Linked DNA regions of Homo sapiens: all the other regions are linked to region 1. The links come from fine-mapping of genetic effects on gene expression. A gene starts in region 1. Each other region holds a variant in brackets. All regions are shown on one strand. Distances are from middle to middle.

What was found. PIP is the estimated chance that this variant, and not a neighbour inherited with it, causes the effect.
Region 2: its variant is the best candidate, but not a certain one, in a credible set for the expression of ATP1B3 in whole blood (TOPMed, PIP 0.57).
Region 3: its variant is the best candidate, but not a certain one, in a credible set for the expression of ATP1B3 in blood mononuclear cells (TOPMed, PIP 0.64).
Region 4: its variant is the best candidate, but not a certain one, in a credible set for the expression of ATP1B3 in whole blood (INTERVAL, PIP 0.85).

The regions. Positions count from the first base shown.
Region 1 is chr3:141,870,518-141,878,479 of GRCh38, forward strand. ATP1B3 (ATPase Na+/K+ transporting subunit beta 3) reads left to right here and starts at 6,126. Exons shown (of 7, transcript NM_001679.4): 1 at 6,126-6,393. The coding sequence starts at 6,285. RefSeq lists silencers at 5,021-5,080, 5,951-6,080, 6,351-6,920.
Region 2 is chr3:141,851,461-141,859,422 of GRCh38, forward strand. LOC105374134 (a long non-coding RNA gene) reads left to right here and starts at 89. Exons shown (of 3, transcript XR_924551.3): 1 at 89-205; 2 at 6,957-7,120. The variant T/A (reference allele first, on the strand shown) is at 4,144.
Region 3 is chr3:141,902,219-141,906,218 of GRCh38, forward strand. It overlaps ATP1B3 (ATPase Na+/K+ transporting subunit beta 3), which reads left to right. Exons shown (of 7, transcript NM_001679.4): 2 at 1,402-1,530. It also overlaps the pseudogene RNU6-509P. Among named protein-coding and RNA genes, the nearest start is that of ATP1B3, 28 kb to the left of the region's middle. RefSeq lists enhancers at 2,206-2,706, 2,707-3,207. The variant A/T (reference allele first, on the strand shown) is at 2,396.
Region 4 is chr3:141,940,324-141,948,285 of GRCh38, forward strand. TFDP2 (transcription factor Dp-2) reads right to left here. Exons shown (of 13, transcript NM_001178139.2): 13 at 4,105-7,962. Among named protein-coding and RNA genes, the nearest start is that of ATP1B3, 68 kb to the left of the region's middle. The variant CT/C (reference allele first, on the strand shown) is at 3,759.

The DNA of each region.
Region 1 (7,962 bases):
TGGGTATGGTATTCTGAGACTTATTCCTCTAAAGGTGGCACTCCACTGTCCTCTGGCCCTGAGTGTAATGGGAAGACTGGTGCTGTTCAGACGTTTGTTCTATTGTAGTTGGACTGTTGTTTGTTCTCTGGAAGCTTTCAGGATCCTCTATTAGTATTTTCTGTACTGTAAAATCAGAAGGTTATGGTTAAGTATGAGCCTATTTTTATTTCTTATGCCTGGCACCAGCATACATTTTCAGGCTGAAGACTCCTGTTCTTACCTCTAGGCAATTTTCTTCTATTATTTCTCTCATTATATTCTCCCCTGAATTTTCTTGTCTTTCTTCTGAAAACACATAAAGTGTCAATCCAGGAACTATTAGTTGAATAGCATCCTTCCTGGATTAGCCCTATATGTGTTTGTACTTCTAAAAATATTTTCATTTCCTTTTGTCTTTCTGCTTTACGCTTTGGGGGATTCCATTGACTGCTCCATTCAGTCCTTATATTGATTTTTTAATTTTAGCAATTATATTTTTAATTTCCAATAATTTTCTTCATGTCACTGATTGTGCCTAATATATATATGTATGTGTATATATATGAGTGTGTATATAGATCTATACATACACATCTATATGTTGATTACATGTATATAATCAACTTATCTTATGGATAAAGTAGCTTAGATTTTGCTGTGGTCACTATTTAGAATACAAGAAAAATTCTCTTATGTCCCCAGAATTATCTGTTTCCTATGAGGTCAGCTTTTTAAAATATCTCCTTTTAAAAGTGTTAAATTTATACCTTCTTTTTATTTTTGAGACCGAGTCTCACTCTCAGCTCACTGCAACCTCTGCCTCCTGGGTTCAAGTGATTCTTGTGCTTCAGTCTCTCAAGTAGCTGGGATTACAGGCATGCACCACTACGCCCAGCCAAATTTATACCTTCTTTTGGTTGTTTTTCAAATAAAAGAACCACAAAAATGTGTATCAGGAAAATTGGCCATCCTTTGTCCCCAATTTCTTTTTCACATCTTCTCCAATTTTTAAAAGCATTATATTATGAAAAATTCCAAGCATATACAAAGCAAATATAGTATAATGAACCTCATGTACCCATCACCTGTTGACCTAAAAGGAAGAAGCTTAGGCAAAATTAATGTAGAGAGTTTATTTAGGCCAAGGTTGAGAAGTGCAGCCCAGGACACATTTCCAGGTTGTCTTGGCGAGTGCTTCAGGGAACAAAGGAGAGGCTCAAGTTTTTAAAGAAAAAAGGATGAATCAGGAGAAAGGGACAATTGCAAAAGTTGTTCATCAGGAATGCATTGGTTTACAGAAATGAAGTGGCTTCAAGAGATAATGATTTAGTTCAAGGAAGAGTTTCATTCCATGTGTTTAATTTCAATGCCTCTCTGGGCCTGATAATTTAAAGGGGCTAGTCTTCCTCACATAAAAAACTTCTTTTTGGCCAGGCACAGTGGCTCACATCTGTAATTCCATATTTAGGGAGGTCAACTCAAAACTATCGCTTGAAGTGAAGCCAGAAGTTCAAGACCAGCCTGGGCAACATAGTGAGATTCCCATCTCTACAAAAATAAAATAAAAATTAGCCAGATGTAGCCGGGCCCGGTGGCTCACGCCTGTAATCCTAGCACTTTGGGAGGCCAAGGTGGGTGGACCATGAGGTCAGGAGTTCGAAGGAGTTCGAGACCAGCCTGGCCAATAGAGTGAAACCCTGTCTCTACTAAAAATACAAAAATTAGCTGGGCATGGTGGCACGCACTTGTAGTCCCAGCTACTCAGGAGGCTGCAGCAGGAGAATCAATTGACCAATTGAACCTGGGAGGTGGAGGTTGTGGGGAGCCGAGATTGCACCACTGCTCTCCAGCCTGGACAACAAGGCGAGACTCCATCTCAAATAATGATAATAATATTAATAATAATAAGTCAGGTGTGGTGGCATGCCTGTAGTCCTAGCTACTCAGGAGGCTGAGGGAGGAGGATCACTTGAGTACAGGAGGTGGAGGCTACAGTGAGCTATGATTGCACCACTGCACTCCAGCCTGGGAAACAGGGCAAGACCCTGTCTCAAAAAAAAAGTTTCTTCTTTTTTTTCACACACCCAGCTTCAGTAACTCAACATTCTGCCTTTTTTTTGAGACAGAGTCTTGCTCTATCACCCAGGCTGGAGTGCAGTGGCATGATCTAGGCTCACTGCAACCTCCACCTCGTGGTTCAGGCAATTCTCCTGCCTCAAACTCCCGAGTAGCTGGGATTACAGGCGCCCGCCACTGTGCCCAGCTAATTTTTGTATTTTTAGTGGAGACGGGGTTTCATCATGTTGGCCAGGCTGGTCTTGAACTCCTGACCTCGTGATCCGCCCTCCTCGGCCTCCCAAAGTGCTGTAATTACAGGCTTGAGCCACCTCGCCCGGCCTACTGTAGAGGTATTAATGGTATTGGGTGGTGGAGGAGAGGTGGGTATTTGAATCCAGGTGCTGTCATTAGCTAGCTTCTTAACCATGGATGAGTTAATTTCTCTAATTTCAGTAACTGTAATTAGAGAATTAATTACAAACTTAATTACGATTTTGTAAATGTAATTCCCTCATTTACAAAATTAGGGAAACAGTACCTCCCCATTAGGGTATTTGTAAAGACTGAGAAATAAATCACACTACGCAAGTAGTACAGGGCCTGGGACTTACTTAATTATTTATAAGAGATCATTATTATTACTGTGGAATTCCTAAGTATCCTCTACAGGTAGGGCTGTCAGATTTAGCAAATAAAAATACAAGATAGGCTGGGTGCAGTGGCTCATGTCTGTAATCCCAGCACTTTGGGAGGCCGAGGCGGGTGGATCACCTAAGGTCAGGAGTTCGAGACCAGCCTGGACAACATGGTGAAACCTTGTCTCTACTAATAACACAAAAATTAGCCAGGTGAGGTGGCACATGCTTGTAATCCCAGCTACTTGGGAGGCTGAGGCAGGAGAATCGCTTGAACCCAGGAGGCAGGGGTTGCAGTGAGCCGAGATTGCGCCATTGCACTCTAGCCTGGACGACAAGATCAAATTCCGTCTCCAAAAAAACAAAAACAAAAACAAGATTTCTAGTTAAATTTGAATTTCAGACAGACAAGAATAATTTTGGGGGAGTAGCTATGTCCCAGATATTGCATGGAATGTATACCAAAAAAAATCCATCATCCATCTGGACTTAAATTTAGGTAGGCATTCTGTATTTTCTCTAGCGAAGTAACTTCTCCTTCAAAGGAGAAACTTAGAGTAAAATAAACTGACAGAGAATGTAACTGTAATTAAATGTTATCTGCTCATACTTGGTAGACCAGTGGTTCCCAGTACACACAGGATTTTCTCTTCCAGGTAATGCTCAAGTTACCATATATCAGAGAAACAAATAGCTTCCATGTTTTGGAGTAGAATGTAAAAATTTCACCAAACTGAAATCTGTTGGACCTAGTTACTATACTGAACTAGTCATGTGTTTCAAAACTGCTTACTGAATTATATATTTGTATTTAAATCCTTATTTGGAAAACCACAAAGCACTAAATATGAAAGTCATATTAATGACCATTAAACATATACAAACTAACAGGCTGGGCGTGGTGGCTCATGCCTGTAATCCCATCACTTTGGAAGGCTGAGGCGGGCGGATCACCTGAGGTCAGGAGTTCGAGACCAGCCTGGCCAACATGGTGAAACCCCATCTCTACTGAAAAATAAAAAAATTAGCTGGGCGTGGTGGCGTGCGTCTGTAATCCCAGCTACTTGGAAGGGTGAAGCAGGAGAATTGCTTGAACCCGGGAGGCAGAGGTTGCAGTGAGCCAAGATCCGAGCCACTGTACTCCAACCTGGGCGACAAGAGCAAGACTCCATCTCAAAAAAAAAAAAAAAAAAAAAAAAAAAAAAAAATATATATATATATATATATATATATACACACACACATACACAAACTACAAATCCTTGACAGCAGCCAATATCTTTGAAACACTATTTCATAATATTCTTGTTTACCACGTTTTCTTTGTGTGCCAGGTGATTAGTTATCAAAGCACGCTTATTATTAGCGCACACACACATACATGCACACACACAATGTAAATGAAGCGGACAGGTTTTGTTTCATTCTAAATATCTTTCTTTCTTACCTAAATGAAAAAGCCTGTTATCAACTCTACCAGTATTTTAGGTTTCCTCTAACCTGTAGTTATATTTGTAATGAGTTGAAAATAGTTAACTACTTCCATTCTTTTTTTTTTTTTTTTTTTTTTTTTTTTTTTTTTTTGAGACGGAGTCTTGCTCTGTCGCCCAGGCTGGAGTACAGTGGCGGGATCTCGGCTCACTGCAAGCTCCGCTTCCTGGGTTCACCCCATTCTCCTGCCTCAGCCTCCCGAGCAGCCGGGACTACAGGCGCCCGCTACCACGCCCGGCTAATTTTTTTGTATTTTTAGTAGAGACGGGGTTTCACCGCGTTAGCCAGGATGGTCTCGATCCTGACCTCCTGATCCGCCTGCCTCGGCCTCCCAAAGTGCTGGGATTATAGGCGTGAGCCACCGCGCCCGGCAGGTAACATTCTTTAGTTCTTTCAATCTTGCCTATGATTTAAAGAAGTGCATTCCAGTCTGCTTGCATGGTGCTTTGCTATTTCTAATACTCATTTCATGCCAAACTCTCCAACATGCTTCTACAAATCTTTTGGTGTCATTAGCTCAAAACGTAAATGGATTTTGGTTATTTTCAATGTCATAATTATAAATTTAGCTTTTTTAAGCGTGAAAAAAGCACTTTATAGGAATATATTTTACCACTTTTCCATTTGTGGGAGGTATAATTCATTATTTCTTGCTTTGGTAAGAAAAGTGAGGAAAAAGGAAAATTCATCCATTTGCAGGCTGTTTAAACTTCCAGACAGATTATAATTCATCACTCCAAACAATAAGATGGCTATTACATTTCTCCATAATTTTTATTTGCTAATAAAACGGAGGCAGAGCTTTTTTCTAAAAATAAATAAATAAACAACAACAACAACAACCTCCCCCACCCCGCACCTTCTGTGCAAATTCCTATAAAGTCTTTTATCCTGTCGCTGAGTCTGAGGGCACCCCCCCTCCCGTACTCGTCAGCTCCATCTCGCGGAGGAAAACGCTACCGGCACCCTCAGCTCCGCCCAAGGGCCGCGATCTCTACAGGGGAGATGAAAAGCCGGCGACACTACACAGGCGTGGACCCTCCAACGAGTGTTCCTTTCCTGTGGGTTAAGAGTAGGAGCGTCTGGGCAAAAGCTGGGAGCTTTCAGTTGCCAGGACCCTTGGGAAAGCACGTATTTAGATTTCATTGATAAATTCAACTGAATCCCGAGAAAAATTATACTCCATTCACTGGCATATTTAGAACGGAATTCCCATTGACCCGAGGCTCCCGGTTGAACCCTTCAAGGGAGCCAAGCGAGGACGTTCTCAGAACAGCAGTGCACCGTGTACATTGTGGGAGCCCCGCGCGATCCCCCGCAGAGCGTCCTGTAGGAACGTCACAGAGCCCAGAGAGCGTCCTGTAGGAACGTCACAGAGCCCAGAGAGCGTCCTGTAGGAACGTCACAGAGCCCAGAGAGCGTCCTGTAGGAACGTCACAGAGCCCAGAGAACGCCTGGGGACGGTCGGGGAGGCAGTTCGGGGAGGGGACGATTAAGTTCCCTCAGAGAGGAAGCCGCGGGCCGACTGGAGTCGTTTTCGTGCTCTCCGCACCCGCCCGCCGCGGGTAGCATCTTCTCAGCGCCCCGGCGCCCAGGAACGCCCAGGAAACCCAGTCCTCCTCCTAAGCAACCTGCGGCGCGGGGACGCCCGCCTTTTGCTATTATTATAAACGTGCGTGCGACTAAACCTTCGGATTTTTAGACTTTCTTCTCGCTTCCTCTGACCCAGGCTGAGGGAGCCCCCGAGGCTACTGCGGGGCGGGGCCGGGGCGGGGTGGGGCGCCCTCGCCGCCTCAGGCAGCGCCCCGGCCGCTGGCGGGAGGCGGCAGCGGCGCGGGCCGAGCGGCGCGGGGATTGGCTGCGGCGGGCGGAGACGTCAGGCTCCCGCGGCCCAAGCGGCCGCCCGGCGCGGCGCGGCGCAGTCGGCTCGAGTACTCCCCGTAACGAGGAGGTGTTCTCGGCCGTCCCACCCTTCACTGCCGTCTCCGGGCTGCGCCGCCGGAGCCGGGACGCGCCTCCGCAGCCCTCGCCGCCTCCATCCCCGCGGCCGCAGCTCCTCTCGCCGTCCGCGCGCACACCATGACGAAGAACGAGAAGAAGTCCCTCAACCAGAGCCTGGCCGAGTGGAAGCTCTTCATCTACAACCCGACCACCGGAGAATTCCTGGGGCGCACCGCCAAGAGCTGGGGTGAGCGGGCAGCAGCTGGGCGTCCGGGGCCGGCCTCGGTCCCGGGGGCGCCGGGCGCGGTCTGGTGGGAACGGAAAGGCGGGAGGCGGCTCCCAGCGCCGGGGCTCCCGACCGCCCGACCCTAACCCGGGCGGCGGCGGCGCAGTGCGGCCCCATTCATTGCTCCCCGGGCCGGCCGGACTGGCCGCAGCTCGCTCCCGAAGCAGCGGGGCCCGCGGGCAGCCCGGCCGGGCCGCGCTGGTTCCTCCCTCCCTGCTGGGAGCGGGGCGCACGTGCTGCCCGGGCCTCCCGCCCGGCGCGGCGCCGGAAGCCGGGGACCCCTGCCCGAAGCCGGGCCCCGAGAGTGCAGGAGCCGAGCCCCCGGGCCTCCTTTGTACGGAGCGCTCCGGCCCGAGAGGCCCTGGCGGAGGCGCCCGGCCCGCTGAGCGGTTCGGAGAAGCCAGACCCTGCCCCACTCCAGGGGAGAGGAAATTTCCACTCCCGCCGCTATCTTGTGACTCGTCCACGCTGCCACCCCGACCGGTCGGAAGAGTGCGACTGAGTGTTAAGTGTGGGTGTGGGTTGCTTAAACGTGTAGCGGTGAGTTAATCACAGAAGTACATTGTACAAGAAAATGCACTTGAATTTGGACAGTGAAAAGGCCCTTAAAAAGGTTGGTTCCTCCCGGATTCCTTTTTAATTACAGAGGTTTTCTTCCTTACAAATTTGCTTCTTTGGGGAAAGTAAATCCTGTCTGAACAACACAGGTTTTTTTTTTTTTTCCCGTGTCTTCAAAACAGGAGAGTGATGGTTGTATGTTAGCAGATTTTTTCTATGCGTGAGCTCTTTGTTTTAATATATTTAAACCATCTACCGTGTAGAGTAGCTTTAGGATGCCTTTTTTTCCTAAAATTGTATCAATCTCTGAATGCAGGCTAGAGCTTTTTTTTTTTTTTGCCTTTATACTTAAGTAAACTAATTTTACCTTTTTAAATCCTTTTGAAACATTTTGTTAGTGGGTCTTGAAAGACCATTTCTTTCTGAGTGGGAATAAATCTCGAGAGCTTAGAACTATTTGGGCACAACATTTTTAGGATAAGCATGGAGAAATAAGCTGTGACTCAGAAAATAAACTGTTGGTGCAGACTGAAATGGACTCCTTCAGGGTGAAAAGGCGACTTGAAGTCTTATCACAAGCTGAAAGGGGCCTTGGAGGATTTTTAGCCCAACCCCCACTTTAGAGATGAGAAAAATGAGACCCAGAGAGGTTGTGATTTTTGCCTTGTGTAAAATTACATATGCCACAAAGCCAAGAAAAGAACCCAGTTCTCCTTTAATCCTAGTCCAGCGGTTGTATTATTTTACAGATGCCTTGCCTAACTGCATGGTAATCACTCATGATTTTTATTTAAATTGCTGTTTTCTTTTGGGAACCCACTAGTGTGATGAAGAAATAAATCTTGCATCCAGACTTACATGGGAACAAAAGATGAACATTTATAAAGCTTAATTGCTTGTTTCTAGAGTGTACTAACTTTTTGCTGAAGAAATTTTTGAGTGGTGGAGAGAGATTAATTTTGATAGGCTACC
Region 2 (7,962 bases), 19 kb before region 1:
CATTGCATCCTCTCCATCTGGCTAGCAAATAATGAGAGAGCAAGCAGAGGACTGCAAATCCCTTTGTCCAGAACTCAGTCATGAAGCCATTGTTACAAAGGAGAAGTGCATATGTAGCCTGCCCGGAAAGGAGAGGAAACAGATTTGGTGAGCAATGAGCTGGCCTCCGGCACAGGTCCAGGGTAGAATGACAACATTGTTGGAGGTGAGGTGGTCAAGGCACTGGCAGGCGGGGCATTTGGAAAGACTGTTTGTGAAGTCACCAAGAATCTGAAGTGACAGGGAATGGAACTCTTCAAGGAATTCAGAGCAGTGACCCGAGTCTACAGTTGATTCAACAAAGCTGAATATTTAGTAAATATTCAGATGACAGCTTCAAAGCTGAAAGCTTTGAAGAAGAGAGGAATGGTGGTCTTGAAGCAGCAGTTGGGAGAAATGAGTATACCTCCTTCACCTCCAGGCCAGTGGTCCAAGATGAGTAGGGGAGAGAAGAAAGGCCCCATTTGAAAGGGTGTCTGGGGAAGAAGTGTCCTTATGGAGAATAGGTTTTAGTGCATGACCTTAACCAAGTTATTTAACCATTCTGTTTGAGGTTTCCTTGGTTTAAAATAGGGATAAGAATAACACTTATCTCATAAGGTTGTTGTATTAAATACTGAAATACAGATGCTCCTCAACTTATGATGGGGTTACGTTCCAATAAACTCATGGTAAGGTGAAAATATCATAAGTCGAAAATGCACTTAATACACCTAACATGCAGAACATTGTAACTTAGCCTAGCCTACCTTAAACGCAATCAACATTCTTACATTACCTGCAGCTGAGCAACACAGTTTATGGTGTGGCTGACAGGGACTGGCCCAGCTTGTCAAAAGAGTATCATACTGCTTTCTACTGAACGTATATCACTTTCATGCCATCTTAAAGGTGAACCATTGTCAGGGACCGTCTCTACCTGCAAAATATTTAGCATGTCGAAATGGCTATGTTAAATAATTTCCTGACATTGTACTAAAAGCACGCTGGTTTCTCCTTTGTTTTTTGTTGTTGTTGTTGTTGTTTGTTGTTGTTGTTTTTTGTTTTGAGACAGAGTCTCACTCTGTCATCCAGGCTGGAGTGCAGTGGTGCAATCTCAGCTCACTGCAACCTCCACCTTCCAGGTTCAAGCAATTCTCCTGCCTCAGCTCCCCAAGTAGCTGAGATTACAGGCACGTACCACCACGCCCGCCTAATTTTTTTGTTTGTTTGTTTAGATGGAGTCTTGCTCTGTTGCCCAGGCTGGAGTGCAGTGGCACTATCTCGGCTCACTGCAAGCTCTGCCTCCCGGGTTCATGCCATTCTCCTGCCTCAGCCTCCCAAGTAGCTGGGACTACAGGTGCCCGCCACCACGCCCGGCTAATTTTTTTTTGTATTTTTAGTAGAGACGGGATTTCACGGTGTTGGCCAGGGTATTCTCCATCTCCTGACCTTGTGACCCGCCCGCCTTGGCCTCCCAAAGTGCTAGGATTACAGGCATGTGCCACCGCACCCGGCCCTAATTTTTTGTATTTTTAGTAGAGACGGGGTTTCACCATGTTGGCCACGCTGGTCTTGAACTCCTGACCTCAAATCATCGACCCACCTCAGCCTCCCAAAGTGCTTGGATTACAGGCGTGAGTCACTGTGCCTGGCTTCTCCTTTGTTTCTGTCTTCTTCCTTCGCGTATTAATTTTCCTTTGTGTGTGCCTTCAATCTGGCGTTGCTCTTGGATAAATGAAGCAATTTATTAGCTTTGCCCTTATTCTAGGACATGATGCACTGGCAAAATTCACTGGGTCCATGTAAATTTATGTTGCCACTCAGAAGAAAGTGGTCAGCTTGGATGTAATGTGAAACTGATGTAATCTTAGATAATAGTTTGAGAAAGAAACACACATTTCTTCCTATAAATAGAATACAAATTTCATTTTCAAAAGGAAAAAGCTTTGTGTGTGAAGAGGGAAGTTCTGGAAGGAGGGTGTGGCTACTTTCCAGATTACAGTTGATACAATTGCACAGACTTTTTCTATTGCCTAATAGAGACTTGTCTATGAATGGCAAAATGAGGAATGATCCATTCTTTTACACCATTTCCAGAACAGTGCCCTGAGAATCAACTGCTTCTGTTAACGCTGTCTGTGGTAAGATGTCTACGCAGAAAACCCTAGGAATAACAATTAAGTTAGTGCTCTGTATTACGGTTTGCTTTCCAGAAGTGACACTCCACAAATCCCTCTCAAACCTCACACCAGAAACTCAAGAGCTCACCAGACCTTCCTCTGAAATATGACTGTGCCAGGGGCCTGATGCTGGGCAAAGGGTCGGGCTGGGGAAGGAGGCAGGTGATTCTTCTGTTCGCCATGGCTGGATAAAACCAGCACACCCCAGCCTCTCAGAAAGCTTCATCCTGTGCATAATTTGTAAAAATTGCTTAGTTACTTGGTCTTAGAGAGGGGAAATCTGATGCCTTGTGATGGAAATTTGGAGTTTCCATCCACGCCTGGCCTGCCGAGGAACTCTGCTGAGCAGTGGCTGCACCTGCCAGGTCTGCCTGTTAACCTCACCGGCGCTGCATGTCCGTATTTAAAAATTGGAACTGAATCTACAGCGCTCAAGGCATTTTCAGAACATGAAACATTTTTGATGTAATCATTTTTTAAAAGTTTCTGCAGGGCACAGTGGCTTGCATCTATAATCCCAGCACTTTGGGAGACTGAGGAGGAGGATCACTTGAGCCCAGGAGTTTGAGACCAGCCTGGGCAACATAGTGAGACGCTGTCTCTATGAAAATAAAAATAAAAAATTGTTTTCAAAGTTTCACTTACATGCTGCCTTTTTTTTTTTTTTTTTTTTTTTTTTTTACGGAGTTTCACTCTTGTTGCCCAGGCTGGAGTGCAATGGCATGATCTCGGCTCACTGCAACCTCCACCTCCCAGGTTCAAGCAATTCTCCTGCCTCAGTAGCTAGGATTATAGGCACCCACCACTACACCCGGCTAATTTTTGTATTTTTAGTAGAGATGTGGTTTCACCATGCTGGCCAGGCTGGTCTCGATCTCTTGACCTCAAATGATCTGCCCGCCTCAGCCTCCCAAAGTGTTGGGATTACAGGCGTGAGCCACTGTGCCTGGTCCACATGGTGCTTTATATCATCTTCACGTAGGTTCTCATCAAACCCCTGTAAAGGATGTTTTCTTGTCCTTGTTTTACAGATGAGGGAGTTGAGTCTTAGAGGATGGTGTCTCTCCTAAGGTCACATAGTCACACATAGTCATAGAAAGGCAGCAGAGGCTGGGTCATAAGGACCCTCTGATGTCACATCCTATGCTCTTGTACAACACCCATCCTCTCTTGTAATTAAAAACTAAACCAAACCAAAATGAAATTAAATACTGCTTCCTCATCTAGCTAATTTTGTCACAGAATCACTGTAACCAGTGATTTGGAGTAAATGGCACCTAGTTTCTCCACTGGGAGGCAGCCATAGCCACCAGTGGCTCCTGTGTTCTTCCAGATATATTCTGTGTGTAAAATTTTAGACGTGCACATCTAACGCAAATGCAAGCAAACTGCCCTGTAGGTGGTTTTTTTTCACTTTAGATTTTCTCAATGATTCTTCTGTATTAGTTATCAATAACTTAGAAGAGGGGAGTGGATTTCTGAGCCTGATCCTTACAACTTAAATTCAAGAGCCTAGCCATCATTCCCTCCGCCTTATACTGAAAACACCTACAGTAGTTCTCTATTACTTACAACATCCCATCTAAATGTTTAGCCAGGAATTCAAAGGCATATATAACCTGGCCATAAAACACCGAAGTTTATATTCCTATAATCCTATATAAAACTCTGTCCTCTCCTGCTAGTGCTCCCTATCCCATGGGCTGGGTACCACCCTCCCAACCCCATCTTCATATAATAAATTACCACCCAGTCCTCAAGGCCTTACTCCAACCCCATCTCTTTCAATGTAACTCCCAAGACCTCTACAGCTAGAAGGGCTTCCTTCCTCTTTAGAGTCTCAGTAGTGCTGATCGCTTGATAGTTAATATTTATTGTCAAATTATCTTTTTTTTTTTTCTTTTTTTTTAGACAAGATCTCACTCTGTCACCCAGGCTGGAG[T/A]GCAGTGGCCCAATCTTGGCCCACTGCAACCTCCATCTCCTGGACGCAAGTGATGCTCCCACCTCAGGCTACCAAGTAGCTGGGACCACAGGCACATGCCACCACACCCGGCTAATTTTTGTATTTTTTGTAGAGATGGGGTTTCACCATGTTGGCCAGGCTGGTCTCGAATTTCTTTTCTTTTCTCTCTCTTTTTTTTTTTTTTGAGATGGAGTTTCACTCTTGTTGCTCAGGGTGGAGTGCAATGGCCTGATTTCAGCTCACCACAACCTCCACCTCCCGGGTTCAAGCACTTCTCCTGCCTCAGCTTCCCGAGTAGCTGGGATTACAGGCATGTGCCACCATGCCCAGCTAATTTTTGTATTTTTAGTAGAGACGGGGTTTCTCCATGTTGGTCAGGCTGGTCTCGAACCCCCGACTTCAGGTTATCCACCTGCCTCGGCCTCCCAAAGTGCTGAGATTACAGGCATGAGCCACTGCGCCCAACCCTTTTTTTTTTTTTTTGAGACGGAATCTCATTCTGTTGCCCAGGCCAGGGCACAACAGTGCAATCTCGGCTCACTGTAACCTCTGCCTCCAGGGTTCAAGCGATTCTCCTGCCTCAGCCTTTGGGGTAGCTGGGACTACAGGCACGTGCCACCACGCTCGGCTAATTTTTGTATTTTTAGTAGAGATGGGGTTTCACCATGTTGGCCAGGCTGGTCTCAAACTCCTGACCTCAAGTGATCAGCCTGCCTCAGCCTCCCAAAGTGCTGGGATTACAGGCATAAGCCACCGTGTCCGGCCTGGTCTCGAATTTCTGAGCTCAAAAGATCCACCCGCCTTGGCCTCTTTGGTGCTGGGATTACAGGCATAAGCCATCATTCCTAGCCCTATTGTCCCATCATCTTAACAGTAAATATTTGTTAACTCAATGACTATTCCCAAATGGGTTATTTTTATTTTTTAGAGACAATGTCTCATTGTGTTGCCCAGACTGGTCTCAAACTCCTCTGAGCTGAAGTGATTCTCCTGCCTCAGCCTCCTGAGTAGCTGGAACTACAGGTGTGTGCCACCACAGCCTGGCACCAAATAGATTGTTAATCACTGAAGGTGTGCAACTAGTTCTTTATCTGACCTACACAGTGTGTTGGCTTGAAGGGGCATGAGCTGGTGAAGCAGTTTGGCTGTTTAAGTGAACAATGATGATTTTGGGGTGATTCTTTCTAAGAGCTAACATTGCCTGTGGCCCCCTGTTCTTTGGATTGCTACAAGAAGGGACAAATCAGATTTCTGTTGTACACAGTGATGTACTGTGCCGCTCTCAGGCAGACTGTGGCTGTCATCCTGCCTATCTGTCTTATGTTTTCTCCCCTTTTAATCATTTCTAGGGACTTACTGAGTCCAGTGACTTTGGTTCCTGTGCTTTTGTTTCCCCATGTGAAGAATTCTACTAGGATTAATAATTTCATTGGGGAACGGACACGGTGGCTCACACCTGTAATCCCAGCACTTTGGGAGGCCGAGGTGGGCAGATCACGAGGTCAGGAAGTTGAGACCATCCTGGCCAATCTGGTAAAACCCTTCTACTAAAAATACAAAAATTAGCTGGGCATGGTGGCACGTGCCTGTAATCCCAGCTATTCGGGAGGCTGAGGCGAGAGAATTGCTTGAACCAGGGAGTTGGAGGTTGCAGTGAGCCGAGATCGCGCAACTGCACTCCAGCTAAAAAAGAAAAAAAAAATCATTAGGGATATCGTAAGAAAGACTTTGAACATCAAAAAAGAAAAATGATTGTAGTTGATTGAAACACATCAAATCTCCAAAAATCCAAAGTCTATAACAGTAAGAGAAAGCTTGTGTGTCACCATTTGAAACAACTGTTTACTTTGAAAGTGGATAACGAGGGAGAAGTAGGCATTTATCCTGCCTTTGCAGTAGCAACTCTACTGCAGAAACCAAAATAATCCCAGATGACAGGGGAAAACTCTACATTTATACATTTATAGGTTACATTTACATTTATACCGTTACTTTACACTGAAAGAATCATTTGTAGTACCTAAGGAAATTATCAATTCAGGCAAGGATTATCAGTTGACCTTAAAGCTCTAAGAATGGGAAACTGGTTACTGATGCTGTACCAAAGTTATACCACTTGGGTCACTTTCTGGTCATAGGAGATGAAAAACATAACTATATGATGGAGGCCTGGTCTCTTAAAAAAATCAGTGTAATAAGACAGTTAAATAATAATAATAATAATTAAATAGAATATGAGGTTCTGGGTTAGTTCATGATCTGTACAAACCAGCTATAAAGGACATTTGGAAGCCAAATGAAGAAATTTGAGTATGTATTAAGTATTAGATAATATTAAGAAATTGGGCCGGGCATGGTGGCTCGCGCCTGTAATCCCAGCACTTTGGGAGGCCAAGATGGAGGAATCACAAGGTCAGGAGATTGAGACCATCCTGGCTAACACGGTGAAACCCCATCTCTACTAAAAATACAAAAAATTAGCCGGGCATGGTGGCACAAGCCTGTAGTCCCAGCTACTTGAGAGGCTGAGACAAGAGAATCGCTTGAACCCTGGAGGCAGAGGTTGCAGTGAGCTGAGATCGTGCCACTGCACTCCAGCCTGAGCAACAGAGCAAGACTCCGTCTCAAAAAAAATAAAAAAAGAAATAAATGTTAATTTTGTTAGATGTGAAAATGTTATTTTGGCTATATAGGAAGACATTTAACTCTTTAGAAATGCATACTGGAGAATTTAAGACTGTATCAGGAGATTACAAGAGATTTATTTCTCCCTCGCTCCATCACCATCCCAGGTCAGCTGTCACTCTCCTTGTTATCTGCAGTCTGGTGTGCAGGCTGAAGAAACAGCCCTGTGTGGGACACTGCTGGTCTTCTGGTAGAAAGAAAAGAAAGATGATGGAATCACACTGTGATTCAGATTGTGGGCTGCACTTCCACTTACGTTTTATTGGCTAAAGTAAGTCACATGGTAAAGTCTTGTATCAGTGGGGGTAATTTTCCCACAGGGTTGGGCAGTAGGATTATTTAGAAGTCAGTGACAAGGAGGACAAAGCATCTCAAACACTGAGAAATAACAAAATTGTTTATCAGGAAGAAAATTATAATGTTAAATCCAGATGTTAAAAAGCAAGAAAGATTGAAAATGAGTGAACTTAGCTTTCAACTCTAGAAACTAGAAAATAACAAATAAACCAGAGAAGGTAGAAGGAAGGAATTAATAAAGATAAAACAGATAATATGAAATAGAAAACCCAACACAATAATTTGATGTTTTAACAAGCTCAAAACATAGAAAGCCTTTGGCAAGTATGAACTAGGAAAAAAAACAAAGAAAGAAAGAAAGAAAGAAAAAAGACACTATAACATCAGAGAGGAAAACAGAATGCAGAGATTTCAAATTTTTTAAGTGCTATGTGCAGCTTTATTCCAATGAATTTGAAAATCCAGACCATGGAGAATGGCTTTCTAAAGAAATATAAATTACCAAAATTGACTCAAGGAACAGAAAGCCTGAACTTATCAATAGTAATATAAGAAATAGTCAAAGATCTACCTTCAAAAAAGAAAACAAGTCCACATGGTCCATAAGGCAAGGTTCTACCAAGAGTTCAAGGAGGAGATAAACCCCACATAATGTGAAAGATGGAGAGTTTACCAAGAGCAGACTATCACTTTGCAGCTACAGATGCTGTATAACGAAGGTCTGGTCCATATAAATTACCAAAATTGACTCAATGGGGATGACCACAATTCTGAATTCCTAAGCTTTTGATCTCATGAAAACTAAAACAGGAGCCT
Region 3 (4,000 bases), 30 kb after region 1:
GGCCACCTGGTAATTGGGGGGGAGGGGTAGAATGCTAGTCTAAATTATAAAATGAAATTGCTTTAACTATTTCCCCTTTACTTGAAAAAGGGGGTTGGGGGTGATTCCTGCCTTGCAGTTGAGAAATAAAAGTTATCTAGCTTTCAGCACAATCTGTTTTGGGGTCATGGGATCTTTTGAGAATCAGAAGAAAGTTGTGGAGCCACTCCCTGGGGGGAAAATATATTCAGAAATATATTATTACAGAAATGAATCTTTGATCAGTTTTTAAACCTTGAAATACAAGTGACTTTACCAATGTATTCTAATATACTTGTTGGCAGCCACTTCTGATGTTAGAACTTTGAATATAGACATTTGAGAAAAATAATTGATTTTAAGTGTTCCCAAAGTAAATCACTGGTTCAGGATAGATCTATCTTAGTGTTCCCAAATTGTGAAAGGAAAGAGATTAAGCCCTTAATGTTGAAACGTGTGTCTCCCAAATCTTGCTTTGTGCTTAGCAGTAGAGCTATGAAATTCCATTGATCAGAGGGCTTGTTTCTGACCTTGTCCTTTTTTCACTTTTGCACGAGCCCTGCCATTTGACCAGTGTGTCCTAAACTTTATTCATTGAGTGCTGTCTTCATAAGTTGGCCTTATCTGCACATTTCCTGATATTCTTTCAATGAACTCAGTTTTTAAAATATATATTTTTTTAATTTTTTAAATATGGAACGACTCACAAATTTGCATGTCATCCTTGCACAAGGGCCATGCTAATCTTCTCTGTATCGTTCCACTGTTAGTATATGTGCTGCCAAAGTGAGCACCTAATTTTTTTGTAAAGACAAAGTGTTTCCTGGGCTAGTCCCAACTCCTGGGCTCAGGCGATCCTCCCATCTCAGCCTCTCAAAGTGCTGGCATTACAGGTGGGAGCCATTAACTCACTTTTTAAAACTTAAATTTAAGCAAATAATTACTGTCTGTGAAATATGCGTTTCATGTACTAATTCTTTTATATTCGCCACTTAAAGGATCATGTAAATATTGGGGGTTTTGTTTACCTAAAACCATCTTGTATCTTTTTAGAGGGCATCAAGTTCATTTTGGGAAACATTCCCCTATGTACTGGAATTTTAAAGCTTTGATTTTGAACCAGAGTATGAATGGTGGAAGCTGCTTTAACTTGGAAATACCAGGGAAAAGGAGGGGTCATGGGATGGGTGGGTGCTGTCTGCTGAAATACCCCTTGCTTGGGCAAATTTATGTGTCCTGAATATGAGGATATTTGGCTATGTGCATGGCAAAGCTTGGGATCGTACCCTTGCAAGAACAGTTGGTTTGTTTTTTAACCTGGCCAAACATGCATACACACACACACGCACGTGCACATTTCATAAGTTTTATTTTCTTTTACAGGTTTGATCTTGCTCTTCTACCTAGTTTTTTATGGGTTCCTGGCTGCACTCTTCTCATTCACGATGTGGGTTATGCTTCAGACTCTCAACGATGAGGTTCCAAAATACCGTGACCAGATTCCTAGCCCAGGTAATTATCTTGCAGTTATGACTTTGTTTTTTGTTTTTTGTTTTTTTTTTGAGACAGAGTTTCACTCTTGTTGCCCAGGCTGGAATGCAGTGGCATGATCTTGGGTCACTGCAACCTCTGCCTCCCAGGTTCAAGCGATTCTCCTGCCTCCTCAGCCTGCTAAGTAGCTGGGATTACAGGCATGCGCCACCACGCCCGGCTAATTTTGTATTTTTAGTAGAGACAGGGTTTTTCCATGTTGGTCAGGCTGGTCTCGAACTCCCGACCTCAGGTGATCTGCCCCGCCTTGGCCTCCCAAAGTGCTGGGATTACAGGCGTGAGCCACTGTGCCTGGCAGTGGTTACGGCTTTTAACAAAATTGAGTTATAGTTTATCTTCACCATAAATCTGTTTTATATAGCAGATAGAAGATAGCTAAACCTTGGAGCTGAGTAATGTGAAGGTTTTAATTTTTGTTGTTGTTGTTTAATATTTACATACTGATTTAAAGACCTTCACATTTATATACTGATAAATCTTGAGAGTTTGAGTGGGTTTGTTTTGTTTGTTTCGGTTTCTTTTTTTTTTTGTCAGAAGTAAGCAAATGAATATTGAGAATTCTAGTAAAAGCCACGTTTGAAGAATATAGTTATAGTTATGAGTGACTTATGAGTATCGTAGAGCAGTTTTACTTTGCCTTGAGTAATTAAGGTATATATTTTGGCACTAGCTTCAGTTAGAGCTTTGGACTTATAAAATACATACTTTGTCGTTCTAAATGGTTAGTTATGAAATTGGTAAGTTGTTAAATAATGATACCTCATAGAGAACAAAATGAATATACTCTTCATATGTTTAATTCTTCTTGATTTTCTTCTGGAAAAAA[A/T]ATTCATTATACAGGAGAATGTATGCAGTAAAAAACTGAAACATCTAAACCACATTTTCTACCTCCTGATTTTATTCTTTTTAAACAGTCTTTTTTTTTTTTTTTTTTTTTTTGAGACAGGGCTTTGCTCCTGTTGCCTAGGCTGGAGTGCAATGGTGTGATCTCGGCTCACTGCAACCTCTGCCTCCCGGGTTCAAGCGATTCTCCTGCCTCAGCCTCCCAAGGAGCTGGGATTACAAGCATGTGTCACCACGCCCAGCTAATTTTTTGTATTTTTAGTAGAGACGGGGTTTCACCACGTTGGCCAGGCTGGTCTCGAACTCCTGACCTCAGGCGATCCACCCGCCTCGGCCTCCCAAAGTGCTGGGATTACAGGGGTGAGCCACCACACCTGGCCTAAACAGTCTTTGAATGCCAGCTCTCCCTTGGTGACTGGACATGACCCTTGTCCTCAGATGCTGATAATTAGAAAAGTAAGAAACAGTAATGTGCAGAACTTCAGTGTGTATAATTCCAAAGACTGTAAACTAACTGCTATAGATGACAGAGAAGGGAAGGTTCTACCTAAAGAAGAAAGTTCAGTCCTAGAGGAGTGGGATTTAGAGGGCAGGAGAGTGGGGAATCGGGCCAGGAAGGTGGGAGTCTAGCAGGTTTCTCTCTAGAGCAGTGGTTTTCAACCACTGAGTCATATGGCAGCGTCTGGAAATATTTTTGGTTGTTACAGCTAGAGAGGTGGTACTGTGAATAGAGGCCAGGGATGTTGCTAAACATCCTACAGTGCATAGGGCAACCCCCACAACAAAGAATTATTCAGCCCAAAATGCCAATAATGCTGAGATGGAAGTGCCCTTATCTAGATCCTTGCTCACTGTATAGACTTCTGAGCTATATCACCAGCCAAACTGAACTAATTGTCTCAACCATTTTTTTTCCTAGAACAATTTTTTTCTAATGATTTCTTTTGTTTACAGCTAATCTTAGTCTAAATGTCTTGAATAACTCTTTTAAAACTCTTAGTGTATTGGAGCAAGTGTCAGAGATTAGTTCCATGCTACTTTTCCTTCATCTCTCATTGTAGCACTGTTTTTTTCTACCTCAGACTAATTCTAAGATTATTCTTTACTTGCTATTTAAGTGATGTGACTTACCATTGAACATAGTCTGATCTATTCAAAAACACTGAACTCTGTTTATAATTGCATGAAATATATAAGCATATGTGTTAAATATTTTTAAGTACACAGTTTTTAAACTGAGTTTCTTAAAATTATTTGTCGATTATTTTAGTACTTAAAGTATCATTAGTTTAAATAAATATACATGCATACACATGTACATATAATACATATATATTACATATGGGACATATTAAACATTTCCTTATTTAATATATCACATGTACATGTAATACATATATAATATGTATTTATGTGTTGTATATTATATACATATAATATGTATTATATGTACATGTGTGATATATTAAATATGGGAATGTTTGAAGGCTAGAGAAAATTTTAGGATTGTTTTAAAGCCTATGTGCAAGGTTGAATTAATCTAGATCTAATGCTTTTTTTTTTTTTTGAGACGAAGTCTCGCTCTGTC
Region 4 (7,962 bases), 70 kb after region 1:
TGCCCCAGTGGCAAAAATGTCCTGAAGCAATTTGGATGAAAGTGAGAAAGTGGATATGACAAATGCTGCTCTACACTAACCGGATTGGTTGTGCCCCCACCACCCACACCCTCCCCAACTACAGGACTTCCTTCACCACTGTGCATTTTCCACTGAGATGCTCTCCTGAAAGCAAGTTTCAGCAAGAGGCTGGAAAGGCCTCTCAGAGAGAAGGCTGAGCTGGCAGTGATCAGGGAGCCCCCGGGCATTTGGCAGCCGTCCACAGTAAGACCGGCAGATGGAGCCTTCATCTGGCAAGAAACTGGGGAAGCTGGCGGTGTCGTCAGGTGCAAGCTTCAGTGAGAAGTGCCAGCACTCTGAGAAGATGCACAGAAATACAGAAGCAGCTCCCGTAGGAGAAGGAATGGAGGCCGCACGCGGTAGCTCACGCCTGTAATCCCAGCACTTTGAGAGGCTGAGGTGGGTGGATTACTTAAGGTCAGGAGTTTGAGACCAGCCTGACCAACATGGTGAAAACCCGTCTCTACTAAAAATACAAAATATTATCCAGGCGTGGTGGTATGTGACTGTAGTCCGAGCTACTCGAGAGGCTGAGGCAAGAGAATCACTTGAACTCAGGAGGTGGAGGTTGCAGTGAGCCAAGATGGTGCCATTGCACCTCCTGCCTGGGCAATAGAGCAAGACTCTGTCTCAAAAAAAAAGGAATGGAGAAAACATAGCCATAGCTCTGGGAGTAGGAACAGAAGCAAGCAAGCTGACTGCCAGTCGGGTTCTTTCTTCTGGAAAAGGCTCTGGGTTGAAGCTGTCTTCTCTCTGAGGCTCAAGAAGCTGGGCATGGAATTAACTCCGTCAACCAAAAATACAGTTCTAAGTCCCACCCCCCAACCATCTGAATGGACTTTCTCCTTGGCCAGGGCGCTCTTAAAATGTAACCTCAGAGACCGGTTCCGGCCAGGAACGGGAAGTGCCTCATTATACCCGCTGGCATTAACATCAACACAGACCTTACTGATAAGAATCATTTACCATCTATTCTCTGAAGCCTGCGACCTTTTCTCTCCATAATCCCTTATCTTAACCCAGACATTTCCTTTCTATTGATTCCAGGTTTTTAGATAAACTCAACCAATTGTCAACAAGAAAATTTGTAAATCTACCTATAAGCCGGAAGCGCCCCCCACCTTCGAGTTGTCCCACCTTTCTGGACCGAACCAACGTATTTTTTAAACATACTTGATTGAAGTCTCATGTCTCCCTAAAATGTATAAAACCAAGCTGCACCCTGACCACCTTGCACACATGTTCTTGGACCTCCTGAGGGCTGTGTCAGGGGCCATGGTCACTCATATTTGGCTCGGAATAAATCTCTTTAAATATTTTTGAAAATAGTTTGTCTCTTCGTAGACAATTCTGTGGGCTTGCAGGTATCGCCCCTGGTCAGCGGTGTATTCAGTCGCTGTGCCATCCCCCATGTGGCTACAAGAACAAAAGCACCTTCTTAAGCCCAAGAGATACAGTGGTTACTCCCATGAGTCCTTGGACACCTTCACCAAACGGCACTAGTAAGTGGCTCCTCTAGGCCGGGAGGAACGGAGAAGGCACAATACCAGCTTGGCTCACTACTCCAGGAGACCCCTGGGGTAAGGGGCTTGAGCACAGGCTCACCACTTCCCCACCACCGCCACCCTTATTTGGTCTGTGAAACTCCAGGGGGAGTCTTTATGGGAAGATGCATTCCTTCCAATATGTCATCGAGTGCTTACTTAGCCATCTCCTTTTCAAGACCTGGGTCTACTTGCTGGCCCCTGAACTGCTCCACACCCTTCTGTGCCTTCTGATTGTCCACGTGCTCAACTTGTTGGAACATAGGAGATAAGCTATCTAGGGTTCCGGCCTCTCCCTGAGACAGGTAGAGACTGCGTGATCAGGTGCTGAGGGGCTGCTATGTTCCGGAGGTCAGGTGACATTCCACCTGAGGCCTGGGGACATGGCATTCTATATTGACTGCTGTCGCTGTTCTCGCTGATGCTGGTTTGGTGTAAGAGATGATAAGAAAGCATCTTCCCTACGAATTGCAGGGAAGCAATTCTGGGCCTAGCCTCCCAAAGTGCTAAGATTACAGGGGTAAGCCACGGCACCTGGCCACCCTTCTTCTTTTTTTTTTTTTTCAGACAGAGTCTTGCTCTGTCACCCAGGCTGGAGTGCAGTGGCACTATCTCGGCTAGCTGCAAGCTCCGCCTCCTGGGTTCATGCCATTCTCCTGCCTCAGCCTCCCGAGTAGCTGGGACCACAGGAGCCCGCCACCATGCCCGGCTAATTTTTTTTTTTTTTTTTTGAGACGGAGTCTCGCTCTGTCACCCAGGCTGGAGTGCAGTGGGGCAATCTCCACCTCCCAGGTTCACACCATTCTCCTGCCTCAGCCTCCCAAGTAGCTGGGACTACAGGCGCCCGTCACCACACCTGGCTAATTTTTTTGTATTTTTAGTAGAGACGGGGTTTCACCGTGTTAGCCAGGATGGTCTTGATCTCCTGACCTCGTGATCCGCCCGCCTCGGCCTCCCAAAGTGCTGGGATTACAGGCGTGAGCCACTGCGCCTGGCCTATTTTTTGTATTTTTAGTGGAAACAGGGTTTCACCATGTTAGCCAGGATGGTCTCGATCTCCTGACCTTGTGATCCGCCCACCTCGGCCTCCCAGTGTTGGGATTACAGGTGTGAGCCACCGCGCCCGGCCCTGGCCACCCTTCTGAGGGCAATTCATGAAGAGGAACTCAGATGTTGAAAGAGGGTCTCAGTCCTTACTCTCTGGCAGAGCCCCAGAGTACCCACTACCCTCACCCGAACAGCCCACCATTATTTTATTGTTCATTTTTCTTTTTTTTTGAGATGGAGTTTCGCTCTTGTTGCCCAGGCTGGAGTGCGATGGCGCGATCTTGGCTCACTGTAGCCTCTGCCTCCTGAGTTCAAGCAATTCTCCTGCCTCAGCCTCCCGAGTAGCTGGGATTACAGGCGACCGCCACCACACCTGGCTAATTTTTTGTATTTTTAGTAGAGACTGGGTTTCACCATGTTGGCCAAGCTGGGCTCGAACTCCGGGCCTCAAGTGATCCGACCACCTCAGCCTCCCAAAGTGCTGGGATTATAGGTATGAGCCATTGCACCCGGCCTATTGTTCTTTTTTATTTTAATCCCAGCAGTTTGGGAGGCTGAGGTGGGAGGATCACTTGATGCTAGGAGTTGGAGACCATCCTGGTCAACATGGTGAAACACCATCTCTATTAAAAATACAAAAATAGGCCGGGCGCGGTGCTGCACGCTTGTAATCCCAGCACTTTGGGAGGCCGAGGCGGGTGGATCACGAGGTCAGGAGATCGAGACCACGGTGAAACCCCGTCTCTACTAAAAATAAAAAAAAATTAGCCGGGCGTGGTGGCGGGCGCCTGTAGTCCCAGCTACTCGGAGAGGCTGAGGCAGGAGAATGGCGTGAACCCGGGAGGCGGAGCTTGCAGTGAGCCGAGACTGCGCCACTGCACTCCAGCCTGGGTGACAGAGCGAGACTCCGTCTCAAAAAAAAAAAAAAAAAATACAAAAATAAGCCGGGTGTGGTGGCACGTGCCTGTAATCCCAGGTACTCCAGAGGCTGAGGCAGGAGAATCCCTTGAATCTGGGAGGTGGGGGTTGCAGTGAGCCAAGATTGCACCACTGCACTCTAGCCTGGGCAACAGAGACTCCATCTCACAAACAAAAACAAAAAAAAGG[CT/C]TTTTTTTTTTTTTTTGAGATGGAGTCTCACTCTGTTGCCCAGGCTGGACTGCAGTGGTGTGATCTCAGCTCACTGCAACTTCCGCCTCCCAGGTTCAAGCGATTCTCCTGCGCCAAGTTGCTGGGATTACAGGCGCATGCCACCACACCCAGCTCATTTTTGTAGTTTTAGTGGTGACGGGATCTCACCATGTTGGCCAGGCTAGTCTTGAACTCCTGACCTCAAATGATACGACCACCTTGGCCTCCCAAAGTGCTGGGGTTATAGGCGTGAGCCACTGCGCATGGCCTAACACCTCCTTTTTTAACTAAAAATATCCTGACCCACTAGTAATGAGACTAACATTATTTTAAAGTGTTTATTTTTTTCTATAATACATTTCATTCAAATCATAAAAGTCTGATACATTTTTTTCTCAAGAACAACTTACACTCATTTGAGATGCTTTTTCTTTCCTTTAATCTTATAGGATGGACAAAGATACACTTTAATGGACAAAAAACACCAGAGTTCATTACAAATACAGCTTCCCAGGCCCCACCTCCAGCACTTCTGACTGAGCGTCTGGGACGCATCCTAGGATCGCAAAACTGTAAAATTCCCCCAGTCAACTCCACGGCAGGCAGGCCTGGAACCACCCTTAGTGGAACACTGCTTAGGACTTGTCTGTTATCTACCAGAAGCAATTTCAGAAAATCAGGAGTAATTACGTATACAGAAATAGCTCTTCTATAAAATTTCCATATAAAAATAATGGCATTTATTTACAAAGTCTGAGATACTACAAAATAATATATCATATTAGGTTGTGTACTTCAATCTAATAAAGGAAAGTCTACATTGGGCAAGTCAGATGTGGTGGTTGCATTTTCCTCTTATCTCTCTTGTTTAAATTGCTTAAAGCATGTGGCACCACGATGTATCCTTCATGCAGAAAAAAGGAGAACTATATTTTCTGGAAATAAAACCCAATAGCACATAGTCAGAGTAAAGCATTTTCAGATGAAAAGGTGAACAACCTAGTGGTTTGGGCTCATGGCCCTTTACCCACCTTTTTTTTTTGAGATGGAATTTCGCTCTTGTTGCCCAGGCTGGAGTGCAAATGGCACGATCTCAGCTCATTGCAACTTTTGCCTCCTGGGTTCAAGAGATTCTCCTGCCTCAGCCTCCCGAGTAGCTGGGATTACAGGCATGCGCCACCACACCCGGCTAATTTTATATTTTTAGTAGAGACAGGGTTTCTCCATGTTGGTCAGGCTGGTTTCGAACTCCCGACCTCAGGTGATCCGCCCGCCTCGGCCTCCCAAAGTGCTGGGATCACAGGCGTGAGCCACTGTGCCTGGCATACCCACCTCTTTTGTCCAAAACTCAAGAGTGATGGTGGTGAACCAAGTGCGTGAAGGAACTCAGTACTGAAACGTGATCCCCGGAGTGCAGCCACCTGGGCAGCCAGTGCATATGGTTAGTGGGTGGTTCCATTTTTCAGGACACTGAGAGGTTGAACCTGCCATGGAACTACTGGGAAAACTAGAACTGCAACAAGCCCAGAGGAGCTATTCAGGAGAAAAGTAGCCCCATTGTCAGTGACGTTTTAGTATGAAAATCCTGGCCCCAGTGTGAACAAGCACAATCGCCAGGCCATGTGACATGAAGCTCGGCCATGGTGAAGTATGGTAAGTGACAAATGGCATGCATTGAAGCACGACAAGGGATGAGTTTTTAAATCCAAACGTGATCTGGGGAATTTTCCGTTATGATTCGACAGACATGGGCAGCACCAGCTGGTGTGGTGTGGAAGGACCAGTTGGTCACTGAACTTCTTGGGCCCCTGCCAATGGCCAGCATGGGGAGCCCTTGTCTGTGGAGGTCTCAGCCCGGGGTTTTCTGACTTGAGAGAGGCCTAAACCTGACACCACAGCCTCATGCTGGGGCTCGGGAAAGGAGTCCCACTTCTACCCCTCAGCTGTTTGGCACTTGGTGACACAGGACTGATGCTAATCCAAAACCCATCTGGGAGGACTGTGGTGACAGCGTGGCCCTCACGGAGGGAAGAAGCTCTGGGTTTTGGTGCAGGCTCTGCCACAGACAGGCTGAGGGATGGGAGGCAAGTCAAGCTCTTGCTTGTTTCCCATCTCTAAATGAGCAGGGTGGGAGCGATGTTATCCCCGATCCTGAGACCTGCGGCGAAGGGGCGAGGCCTGACCCTGAGCATCAGCTACGTTGGCCTCCAATGCAGCTATAAGCAGTGAAGACCAAAGTCTAACCTGCTGAAACAGCAAGGGGCAAGACAGCATTGACTTCAACAGGCCTTTTTTGTAAAGCAAAAGGTAAGATGACAAGATCCGGTCTTGTCTGAGAACAGCTGCACAGAATACACATTATAAATGAGCACTTTCTCCTATCTCAGCACCCTGGTGAATGGGTGTCAGAGAAGTTTCTGGACCTGTCAGGGACTCCCAGGGCTTAGCCAGAGGGTCAAAGTGTTGTGCCCACTCACTTTTTCTTCTTTAGCATACTGTGGAGTGAGACATGTGGGAAAATCGGATCCCAGAGATTACCTAAGCATCACTTCTCAGAGACGTTTTGGTTAAGGGACTACTTCCTGAGAAACGTTATAATTTATGTGGGTATTGAGCTTGAATTTTTTTTAATCATAAAATCTTAGGCTGGGCGTGGTGGCTCAAGCCTGTAATCCCAGCACTTTGGGAGGCCGAGGCAGGCAGATCACATGGTTAGAAGTTCAAGACCAGTGTGGTCAACATGGTGAAACCCTGTCTCTACTAAAAATACAAAAATTAGCCAGGCGTGGTGGCACATGTCTGTAATCCCAACTACTTGGGAGGCTGAGGCAGAAGAATCGCTTGAACCCGGGAGGCAGAGGTTGCAGTGGCTGAGATCATGCCACTGCACTCCAGCCTGGGCAACAGAGCAAGACTCCATCTCGAGGGGAAAAAAAATATTATGCAAACATCAGGTTTTTCTCTTCTTAGTAACCATGTTTGGCTTGAGTGGAAATTTAATCAAACACTGTTATCAACTGGGAATTTGAGGGCAGGGAGGCACATTGCTGAGGGTCATTCAAATGGCATGGTGCAGGCTCCTGATACATAGTGTGGGTCTTTGGGAAATGCATATTAGTTTTCATCAGTGCTTGGGGACCATTGCTTTGGGTGCATGAATATGGGAACCCATTTGGGAAAACGGTTCTTAGAAGTCCAGTCATCAGCTTCACCAAAGCCAGCCCATATGCAGAATACAGATGATCTCTTTGATGTAGCCAACAACTTAGAAACACGTAAAATAGTTCTCAATTTCTAATCATTTTTCTTTCTTTCTTTTTTCTTTTTTTGAGACAGAGTCCTGCTCTGTCACCTGGGCTGGAGTGCAGTGGCGGGATCTTGGCTCACTGCAACCTCCGCCTCCTGGGTTCAAGTGATTCTCCTGCCTCAGCCTCCCGAGTAGCTGGGACTACAGGCATGTGCCACCACGCCCGGCTAATTTTTGTATTTTCTAATGATTTTTCTACTGCATAGATTCAGTTGGAAAGTAGTGAATCTTTGTGACAATCTTCTCTTGGTTTACAGAAATTGCTGGTAGCTAACTTTGCTTTGAAGTCTTAAAAGTTCCCAAACAGACTCCAAAATGAAGGCTTGAAACTGGAACAGTGGGGCCTCTGGAACTTAGGAGAGATTCCAAGTGCATGTTATGGGACAGAGTGGCTTGTTAAGAAAGTATAGAGACATCTGTCTTTCCACCATCTGACTCAGTAAAACTGTCTCTTTCCCAGAGGGGCCTTTCCCAGCCACCCCCAGCCAAAGTAGCCTTTCCCAAACGGTCCCGCTACGCTGCTGCTTTCTCCACAGCACTCATCAATCAATCTGCACGTGTTCCATCTGTGATCAAGTTTCCCCAATAGGAGGAGAACCCAACATCGGCAGGGCTCTCGCTGCTCCGCCCCAATGCCTGCTCACAGTAGGTACTCAAATGCTTACTGAATGAAGGATGAAATCTTAAGATTCACTGTCCAACCCCCACCCCTTACTTACCACTAAGGCAGCACAGTTTTAAGGTCTATTTCAGACTTGTTGGGCAGGGACAGCCCATTTTGTTAGGGGAGGGAGCTTGATAGATATTAAAGGGCCCTTGAAAGGAAATAATTTTTAAAAAGCTAAATAGAGCCGGGTGCGGTGGCTCACACCTGT